Regions from separate parts of the Homo sapiens genome. Here region 1 is linked to region 2. The links come from fine-mapping of genetic effects on gene expression. A gene starts in region 2. The other region holds a variant in brackets. All regions are shown on one strand. Distances are between the middles of the regions.

Region 1 (5,000 bases), 640 kb before region 2:
TATCTACAGGCTATACTAGAAAGTGGATATGGATATGGATTAACTGACCAAGGCCAGACCAGAAGCCAAAGGGTAGGACAGAATTCAAACCCAGAGTTCCTAGTTCAAAGCCATGCCATGCTCACACCTGCACATGTTGTGCTATGCCACATGTGAGCGAGGTGGTCATCTGAAAAATGTCTTGGCACTCCCTACCATTCCCCTTCCTTCTTGTGTGAAACTGAACAAGGGGCCTTTGGCAAACAGCTCCAGGGAGTATAGCTCATTAATTTAGTTGTGTTGGGAAATAGGGTGTAAAGCTTATCTGTGGTGTGCAAACAGAGAATGCAGAAATACTGTTGCCAAAGGTTTCTAAGCCAAGGGAATGCTAGTGTCTGCTGGGAGAGAGGGGACGTTTGGGCACGTGTGACTCAGCCAATAAGAGGCAAGTCTATAATGTCTCCTGCAGTTTTTATAAAAATGTGAAAAAAGCAATTGAAAGGAAGATGCTTTTAAAGTCTCTTACAAATGCAAAAGTCTATGATTCCAGGACATCCATGCAGAAAAGTTGCAACTACCGAATGGTCTTCATTCTGAACTTGTGTCACTGTCACATGAGCCCATCACTGGTGTTGGGTGCTAAGAGAATGTCCTCCTCCAGCATCTATCTTGGGGTTCTGGCTACCAGAACAACTCTCCTAAGGACCAGTAGTGGGTCAAGATCCATTTTACATCCAAGAACAAATGGAGCAGCTTGGCCCCCTCTGGTCCTCAGAGGAAGCTGTGAATGAGAAGTCCTTTTCTAGAGCAGCTCAGGGACTTCCTTTGGAAGGCACAGAGGTCCTGGGGCAGAAACTTCAATCTCACTCTTCCTTTCATTATTCATACAATTATTTGAATGAAAGGCCTTATGAAAGCTCACAATACTCCTCAAGATTCTCTTCTCCCCAAACCCAGCATTAAACAGAAAGCAGCCTCTGATTCAACAGCCTGGATGGTGTAGCTCGCTCCCAGAATGTCCCCATGATCCTACCAAGACAGTCACCACTTTAAGAGTCAATCCTTGGAGGCGGCTGCCCATGGGCCTCTCTTGCAAGCTGCCATTCAAGCCCTTCTCTGAGTCCCATGTCGCCAACTGTGAAGGAAAAATAAAGATTGTGAGGGATGGAACTGGCACCCGTGCACACCATAGGACCTCGGCTCCTACACTGGGATCCTGAATTAGGCAGGTAGGTGAACAGTAGTCCCCTGGAGTTCCCAGAGACCCAGAGCCATTTTAAAACCCTAAAGAGAATAGATATATGGTAGACAGAGTTACATGTCCTCCTTCAGCTCGCCTGGATCTCTATAGAGCTCAGCACAGCCCTAAAATGAAACCAACTGGTGAGAACTTGTCTCTAGAACAAATGTTTATGTCCAGTTTTATTCTGTTCACCCACAGAGGCCATGTCACTGTGATGCCTGCAAAATACCCTCTTTCTTTAATTACTCCTTTGACTTGCCCAGGCCACAAGGCCCTTGAGTTCAGCCATTGCTCCCTCCATGGGTAGGATGAAGCTCAGCAGTAAAGCAAGTAGCAAACACTCAAGTGTACAGCTTGTCTTGCACCCCGGTGCCTATGGCAAGCAGGGTCAAGAGCTTCCTGCCTGTTTTCACTGTGGTGCCAGCTCCCTCATTTTCCTTGACAGGCAGGTAGAGGCTAATGGCAGAGTAAATGTGCTCTGAATCTGCTACATTCTCTTAAGCCTGCAGAGTATATCCAATAGCCAGAGGCATCTCTGATAGTCACCCTAAGGTGGTCAAGGAGAACCTACCTTGGCTCAGAAACAATGAGGAGACACAGTTGTTCATGAGACTGCTTCCCCTCCCTGCATCCTTGCAGGGTCTATACAACGACAAAACTTTTGTCTGGGAAACGATTCTCGACTATTAATGGGGAAGACATAACAAAATGCAGATACCCAGCCCCATCTCAAGTCAACTAAATCAGGATCTCAGGGCCTGAGCATAGGAAGTGTTAATGCCTCCTGAGTGCTCCTGATACTGCAGCCAATGTCGAGAACCCCTGCTCTTCTAGGTCACTGGGCCTCCAACTTGGCTGCATATTAGTATCTTTTAAGGGGGCTTTATAATGAAGTGTACTGAAAGTTGGGCCTTACCCCCAGAGCCTCTTATTTAATTGGTCTGTAGTGGACTAGAGATGGATATTTTAGCTCCCCAGGTGATTCTAATGCACAGCCAGAATTGTGAACCACTGCTGTAGATTAAAGCCATGATGCTCAAACTATGATATCCACACAAATCACCCAGGGATTTTGTATGCACTTTCTGATTCTGGGGCCTGAGATTATTCATGTCTAACAAGCTCCCAGGTGATGCTGCTGCTGCTGCTGCTAATCCATGGACCACAATTTAAATAGCAGGGGGCTAAAGGGTCAAACTGCCACAGGCAGTATATACTGTTGTCAGGGAAAATCCATAAGACCCCCTAGTTAACCTGAAGAGAAGAAGAACTCCAGTGGAAAAGTGCTACTGGGGGCCCTAAAGTAAAGAATGCTTCTACTCTGTCAGCATTTCCCATGGTCCTGACATCTGCAGCAGGGTCTGCACACT[A/G]AGCCCTGACTATAAGGCCATAGAACCTGAGGAGTCATTCCTCCTGGAAGAGACAACAACTCTGAGATGTAAAACCATCAGAATAAGAGATGGAGTTCTAGAGTCAGTTTTAAAGAAACCTGGAATTTCCTGTTGTCACCTTGGACATGATACCCACCAAGACCCACTCCATCCTGAATAATAGGGTGCCTTGGTGTGATGAATAAATAAATTAGTAAAAAACATGGCCATGTACCCCAAAGAACCACCCACCGCCACCACCACTAATTAATTTGGGGGCATTGAGATAAAGAACAAGTGAAGATCTACCCAAAATTCTGCTTAAAGACCTCGAAGATACCAAAATACCACACTTTGGGTAATGATACAGTTAAAAAAAAAAAAAGCAAAAATCATGGCTATTTCTCCATTGGACCTTAAAAAATAGGCTGAGAGCTGTGGCTTATGCCTGCAATCCCAGCATTTCGGGAGGCCAAGGTGGGTGGATCGCTTGAGTCCAGGAGTTCAAAACCAGCCTGGGCAATGTGGTGAAATACTGCCTCTATAAAAAATAAAAATAAATTAGCCAGTGTGGTGGCATACTCCTGTAGTCCCAGCTATTTGGGAGGCTGAGGTAGGAGGATCAATTGAGACCAGGAGGTCAAGACTGCAGGGAGCCACAATTGTGCCACTGCACTCCAGCCTGGGCAACAGAGTGAGACCCTGACAAAAAAAAAAAAAAGAAGAAGAAGGAAGGAAGGAAGGGAGGGAGGGAGGGAGGAAGAAAGGGAGGGAGGAAGGGATAAAGAAAGGGAGGTAGGGAGGGAGGGAGAAAGAAAGAGAAAGAAAGAAAGAGAGAGAGAGAAGGGAAGGGAAGGGAAAGGAAAAAGGAAAAAGGAAAGGAAAGGAAGAAATTGCATTAAGATACAGAATTGGTTCCTACAGCTGGATTAAAATGCTTGTCAGAGGGAAGAGGACAAATTCAGACAAATGGGGTCAAGGGGTTGATTGCCTCTATTCTTTGGATGTTCTACTATGGACTCACTGGGGCAGGAGTGGATATTTATTTGGGGTGCCTGCATCTGCACTCCCATAACTGCTTAGCCCAGGTGCTGGAGCTGCTTAGCCCTGATGTGTGTCCTGCTACTTCTCCTGGGTGTAGGTGGAGTTATAGAGGTCTTCTTGACCATCCCAATGGCTCACAGAGTCATAACAGAAGACATCTTGTCCTAATGATGATGTGACCATTCCAGGCACTCAATACTCTTATCCTGCACCAGGACCCAGATTCGTAACATCTGCTGCCAAACCTTCCTGGTACGGTGAAGGGGCATCTTAATTCTCTACTGTCTTGGCTTGGATGAGTGTTTGGAATGGAGCTCTGTGCATCTTGATCAACAAGGCTTTACCTGTCTTTCTACTGGGATTATAATCAGAAATTAGAATGGAGGATGGAGGCAGGAAGAAACAGTTGGGATGAAGCCCTGAACATCATTCTCTGCTTCTGGCTCACTGCTTGGCTCCAGGATGCACCACCTCAGTCCCCCTAGACCTTTGCAACAGCTTTCTCATTGGTTTCGCTGCTCTCAGCCTCTCTTATAGCACATCCTTCAACAGGCAAGTGGGTACCCTTACAACAAATAAACTCAAATATGAACTATATTAATTAAAATATTCTAATGAATTCCTTTTTCTTACAGAATAAATCCTAAGACTTTTCAGCTTGGCCTAAAAGAAAAGCCTTCCTCATCCAGAGCCAATCCTGACTCTCAACCTCACTTTAGTTTATGTAGTTACAGTACACTAAAATCCCCAAAATCCCTCCTTCTTTCTCAGGCACACCACATTCCCTCCTGATATTTGTATCTAGTTTTTCTCTGCCTGGAATGCCCTTTCTCCTCTTCTGGGTCTGGTAAACTCTTACTTGTTTGTTGAAATAAGATTTCACTTTAGAATAGTTTTAGATTTACAGAAAAGTTGTAGATATTGTACACAGAATGTCAATAGATCCATAAGCCAGTTTTTCCCATTAAGACATAACATTAGAATGACACATTTATCACAACTAATGAATGTTCAGCCCAATATCCATGATTTATGCAAATCTGCAATAGAAATGAAATAGAAGGACCTCCAGTTCCTTCTACTCTTGGCATAAGTCAGTGAGTCAGCTGTGGCATTGGGGTTTCTTGCCATGTTCTCTGGGGTCAAAACTCTGTCTTCATAAGCTGTCTAGAGCCTCAGGCTCTTGGGCTAGACCTGGCCTTGCTCATTCCCATCTCAGGATCTCCAACCTTGCCTCGAATTCCAGGCTCTCCTCTCCAACATTAACTTCTGTAACTGGAGAAGAAGATGGGAACTTGGAGGTGTGAACTTAGCAGATGTTCATGAGTCAGTAGACCTATGTTCTAATTGTTGTCACCACTTAC
Region 2 (5,411 bases):
GCGCCACGCAACCCGCAAGAACACCAGCTCCCCGCGCTCGCAGGCTCTCCGTGCCGGCCCGCAGCGCAGAGCAGTCCCGGCGCCGCTGCCTAGGTGGGCCGGGGAAGGCGCGCCACCGCGCATGGCACCGCGGCTGCCGAGGAACAGAGGGTGCCCTGCGCAGCCCAGCTCGTCCCAACCCCTCCGGTGCCCACTGCTGCGACGCCTCGCAGGCCGTGTCCCAGTGGGCCCTGGGCACAGCGGTCACTCACCTTCCTGCACAGCCTGGAATGGGTTGTTGGCCTCGATGACCTTGATGGAGTAGGTGATCTTCTCGCTCTGCAGGATGTCATCGTTGAGGCTCAGGTCGGATACCGCCAACTGGAACACCCTGTCGTCCTTGGCCGCGTTCTCCTCGAAGATGGCACCTGGAGGAGAGAAGGGATCAAGACCGGACCTGGACAAGAACCCTCTCCCCGCTTCCCTTGGCCCGAGGGTCAAGGCACTCGCAGACCGATGATTGCCGGGTGGTGGGAAGTCTGAACTGGGATTTCAGCTTGGCGGGGTAGATTAAGGCTCTCCGATCTCCACCTGCACAGGAATATGTTCCCCTCCCCCCACCAGCCCTCAGCGCACACGTGCACACAGTTGACATGAGTTACACATGCACATCCCACAGGCTGCCACCAGGTCACACACGTGTCTCACAACCAAGGCACCACATGTCCTAGCCATGCTCCACACAAGGGACTAAGCCAAGCTGGGGTGGCCCCAGGCAGCGCCCAAATGCCTTGACATGGTTCCATAAATCCCATCCCAGGAGCCAGGAAGTTCCCCGGGAGGGTGGTGTCCCCCACCCAAATCCCAGGACAGAATGATGGGTCCTTCTCCATGCACGTCCCCTGCTGAGTGGAGCTGAGCGAAGCAGGTCTACAGTTGGCTTTCCTGCGCAGAGGGGTCTTCCTTAGGCAGGGGCTTCGGATGGCCTGCAGCTTGGATGACTGTGACGCTGCCCGGCCTGGCGCCCTGAGCTCAGCCTCCTACTCTCCATCCTTCCCCACTCCCATTTCCTGTACGTCTGTCGAGGGGAGTGGGGGAAGGGGACTTGTGTCCTAGGCGCCTCCACGTTCAGATCTAGCGGAGCTGGGGGTCCCAGAAGGAGCTGCTCTTGAAGGGCTTTCTAGAACCGCGGACAGCTCCTCCAGGGCGCCCTCCGGCTGGCGCTTTGTGCGCCTAGCACAGCTTCCACGGACCCTGCGCTTCCAGCCGAGATCAGTGCGACCAGCCCGAGCCTAGTCCTGCAACCTGGACAGCTCTGGAGTCAGCCACCCACATCCCGCCTCACCAAGCCTCGAGGGTCCCTGAGGTCCCGGAGCTAGGCCCAGTGATCCCTCGAGCTGGGGGCTGGGTAGGAGGAGGGAGGCCCGGATTCCTCACTACACCCGGAGCCGGCGCCGCAATGCTGACCGCGAGACCCGCACCCCTCCAGGGCGGGAAGCAGGTTTGGTCACGGGCCCCTGAGGAGGAATCGTAGCTCTCCGAGCCCAGGCCTAGTCCTCACCACCCCACTCCACCACCCACCCTCCCGCCTTGTCCCGTCCTCCTCGCCTTCAACACCTCCCAACCCCCAGTTTCCCTGTGCTCGCTGGTCTTTCCCAACTTCCGGAAAGACGACTGCGGAGGGACTCCCCCAAAGCGACCGCTGTCAGCCCCCCAACTCGGCCCAACTTCCCGAGATTCCTCCCGTGTTGCTCCCAACTCCCACCCACTCCCCCTCGGCGCGCCCACTCCCCCTCGGCGCGCCCCCTCCTCCTCTGCGCTTTCATCTTCTCTCCCGGTTCTCTCTCTCTATCCATCTCTTCCCGCTCAGCATCCCCCTACCCCCCGCTGCCCACGCTTCTTCCCTCGGCTCCCACCACCCAGACCGTCTGGGCCCCCAAGACTTGGACCACGCAAAACTCTAGGACTGTCCAGGATGGGGATGCAGTCGCCACAACCAGATACACACGCACTCACACATACACCAAGGGCTACACAGACACACACCGGAGAAGCAGGCAGACACTGTGTCCACTCTAACAGGCTGACAGACAGTCGTGCACGCACCAACACACGCTCAGATGGCCCCACACACCCCAACACCCTCTCACAGTAACACCGACACCGTGCCAGGCGCACACAGCGACACACGCTGACAACACGCACCCACACACATTCACACACGGTTCCGGTCCGGCCTCTTTGATCTTGCCCTGCCAACTTGGCGAGCCCCCCGCTGTACCTCCCCCTGCCCCCCGCTGCTCTGAGCTGCGCAGAAGGGCCCTCCCGACCCGCCGACGGCCCCGCTAAGGGCGCGGGTCTCGACGCGCGTCCATCCCGGTGTTCCCCGAAGCGTCGGCCCTAAGTGTCGGTAGAGGCCGCGGGGCCCCGCGCGGAGATCGGAGCCCCGGGGAGCGGCAAGCAGCCAGCGGGAGCGCGGCGCGGCCGGTGCACAGCTCCTCCGCCGGGCGGCGCGGCGCGGCCCTTCGGGGGAGCACCGCCCGCCGAGCCCCTCGGCCCAGGGAAACGCCAAGTTTGGACGCCGCGCACCCCCTGCCCCGTTGGGGCCCCCGCCCAGCCTCGGCCCGGCCTCCAGCCGCGCTTACCGATGTGGATGATGGAGTCGGCCCGCACCGACACGCACTGGCATATCCAGGGGAGAAGCCACAGCGTCAGCGCTTCCATGTCCCCCGGGCGCGCGGCTCATCCACCCGGGCCCGGGGCGAGGCCGAGGGCAGCGCGAAGCGGGGAGGCGCTGGTCCCGGTGCAGTCCCGGGCCGCTCCCCGGGAGAGCCGAGCCCGCCCGTGCGTCTTCCCCCGCGCGCCCGCCCCTGCGCCCTGCGCCCGCCCCAGCCCAGCCCAGCCCAGCCCAGCGCGGTCGGGCTCCCGCTCCGGCTCCGGTGGCGGCTGCGGCGGTGCTGGCAGCTTGAGCCCAGGCCGGCGCGGCGGGGGCGGCCCGCGGCTGTGGCAGCGGCGCTTCCCGCGGCTAGAGCGGCTTCGGGGGAGGCTGAGGCGGTGGCGGCGGCGGCCGGGCCGGCGTGGCGGCTCTGGGCTGGCTGTGTGTCTGAGCCCCGGCGAGGAGCGAACTGCGGAGGACGCCCCCTCCCCTCCCCCTCCCCCTCAGCTCCGCTCCCCCTCCCCTCCCTGCCCGCCTCCCTCCCCTCCGCCCGCCTCTCTACCACGTGACTGCGGAGCCTCAGCCTCGCCGCGCGGCTCTCGCCCGCTCGCGGCTCGGAGGGGGCGCCGGGTGCTCCACGCTCCCGGCTCGGGGGACGCTCGGAGACCGGCACAGCGGCGGGGACCGGCCTGGGCTGCGGCGCGCCGAGCTCTGACGGTTCGGGCCTCCTTCTCCGGTTCGCCAGGGGCGGGAGAATGGAGGAGGGCCGGCCGCTAACTGCCCTCGAGGGGCTCCCGAAGCGCCCTGGCGACCTCAGCAGCCGCGCGTCTCGGGTCATGTCCCCGGCCGAAACAGACCGTTCCTCGTGGAGTGGGACCTGGGGAGCAAGAAGAGAGACCGGGGCGGGGCGCCGGGCCAGGCCCCAGGACAGCTGGGGAGCCAGAGGGGGCCGGCCGCCGCAAGCATCTCAGAGTAGAGCCCGGGCCGTGGGCTCGAACCCTGGCTGGCCGCGCGGACCTCGGCGGGCGCCCATCCCCCGCTCCATGGGCAGCGCGCTCAGCCGGGAGTCGGGCAAGAGGCTCGGACTCTGAAGCCCAATTCATGGCCGGAAACCAGCGCAGCCGTGACCGCGGCGCCTGGACGTGAGGAGCCTTCCAAGCGGCCGGCGGGCTCAGACTCCGACCCTGCACGGAGCTTTCATGTGCGAGCCCGGGCGAAGAGCCCGCTCCTCGCGGCCACAGCGGAACAGGGCTCCCTCCGCCTCCGGTGCCTGCCTCGGGCCGGCCACCACCAAAGAGAGCGTTAAGCTGTTGTGGGCTCGTGCCTGAAAGGGACTGGGCTCCATGTGGCACCCCCAAGATTTCGAGGAGACAGCTGAGCTTCCTGGGGTCTGGGACCTGGCAGAGCCTCGTTCAAAAGCTGCTCCTCCAGCAAGCCTGGGAACGTCCCCGGGCCCTGTTGTCCGCGGAGGGGCCCCAGGACTCCCGCCACGCACCAGGGGGAGAGGCTCCCACCACAGCCCTTGCCCAGAGCTCCCAGCGCAGTGGGCGAGGCAGACACCCAACCAAGTCATCTTTTAAATGTTGGGGGGGGCTATGAATGAGCTGTGTATGCTCAGATGCCTGGGCTCTGAACCAGCCTGGGAAGAAGAGCAGGGATGACTTCCTGGAGGAGATGACAGTTGTAAAGACTGAGTGGAGGTTCCCAAGGGAGAAAATAAGGCTTCCAGGCATTGAATAGTGGTGAGCCAAGGCAAAAAGAAAGAAGTGTGTGTCTGTATGTCTGTCTGTCTCTCATGTGGCCAGAGCCAAAGAGTAAGCATTGGTAGATTTCACTTTGGAAAGAAAGATTGGAGAGGATGGGCTGTGCAGAGGGGGCCAGTGGAGGCCCATAGCACTGTGAGGGAACCCTGGGTGGGCCAGCTCAGCTGGGCAGGGACAGCCTGTTGGAGCGGAGAAGCTGGATTGCAGAAGTATCAAGGAATCCCATGAGCCAGCAAGGTGACTTCTAGGTTAAGGAGGCCAGGGGGCAAGAAGAGAGGAGTGGTCATATGTCATACTTGCCCATGGGAGTGGCTGAATGTGGTCCTACACACACACACACACACACACACACACACACACACACTTCTTCCAAAAACCTGTCTTAGGGTCCTTGAGTAGTGAAACCTGACCCACCCCGCATCTCAAAACCCTCTACACCTCTAATTCTTATTCCTGCAAAATTCTACCATTCACTGGCTGAAATGCTGTAGGGAGAAGAGAAATAAATGATGAGTTTTATTATACATCAGTTTGGTTCCTACGGGGACTGTCTCCACCTTGAAAGGATGGTGGGTGTGGTCTTGACCTGAAGTCCCTGTGGGTCAGGGACTCTCCCCGGGCCTCCTGTTGTTGGGGGTTCTCCAGTGTGTTAGTACAGTGGGCATGTGATATACCCAGTTAGAAGTTTTTCTTTGATGTATGTTTTGCTAGGTGTAGGTAGCATGATTTCAGTGGGATAAGTATTAAGACCTCCTTCCAAGTATTAAGAAGACAACCCACCAACACATAGTTGTGGAATGATTTCCATCAAGTTCCAGTTTGGATGATGAGGTGGGTGATGAGGTTCCTGTGGCTTGGCATCTGAGGATCATGACTCAAGGTGGATCTCATCTGGAAGTTGTTGACCTGGGGCAACCTCACCTTCTGTCCTGGGTGCCTCCTTCCTCTCCAGCTTCCAGGGCGTGTGGTAGTCTGCCATCCCCATATGCTCATTCCCAGATCCTCACCCTGGG

Direction of the effects. Positions count from the first base shown, and alleles are read on the strand shown. Sizes are in standard deviations (SD) of each study's normalised expression.
For the expression in testis of the gene that starts at base 3,106 in region 2, allele G in region 1 goes with a lower level than allele A (moderate effect, 0.55 SD a copy in GTEx).

What was found. PIP is the estimated chance that this variant, and not a neighbour inherited with it, causes the effect.
Region 1: its variant is fine-mapped to the expression of GRID1 in testis (GTEx, PIP above 0.99).

Annotation. Positions count from the first base shown.
Region 1 is chr10:85,728,501-85,733,500 of GRCh38, forward strand. It overlaps GRID1 (glutamate ionotropic receptor delta type subunit 1), which reads right to left. Exons shown (of 16, transcript NM_017551.3): 9 at 1,013-1,114. Among named protein-coding and RNA genes, the nearest start is that of GRID1-AS2, 87 kb to the left of the region's middle. The variant A/G (reference allele first, on the strand shown) is at 2,593.
Region 2 is chr10:86,363,690-86,369,100 of GRCh38, forward strand. GRID1 (glutamate ionotropic receptor delta type subunit 1) reads right to left here and starts at 3,106. Exons shown (of 16, transcript NM_017551.3): 1 at 2,625-3,106; 2 at 252-407. The coding sequence starts at 2,703. RefSeq lists an enhancer at 1-214 and silencers at 2,415-2,564, 2,595-2,794, 3,025-3,074, 3,095-3,484, 3,595-3,804.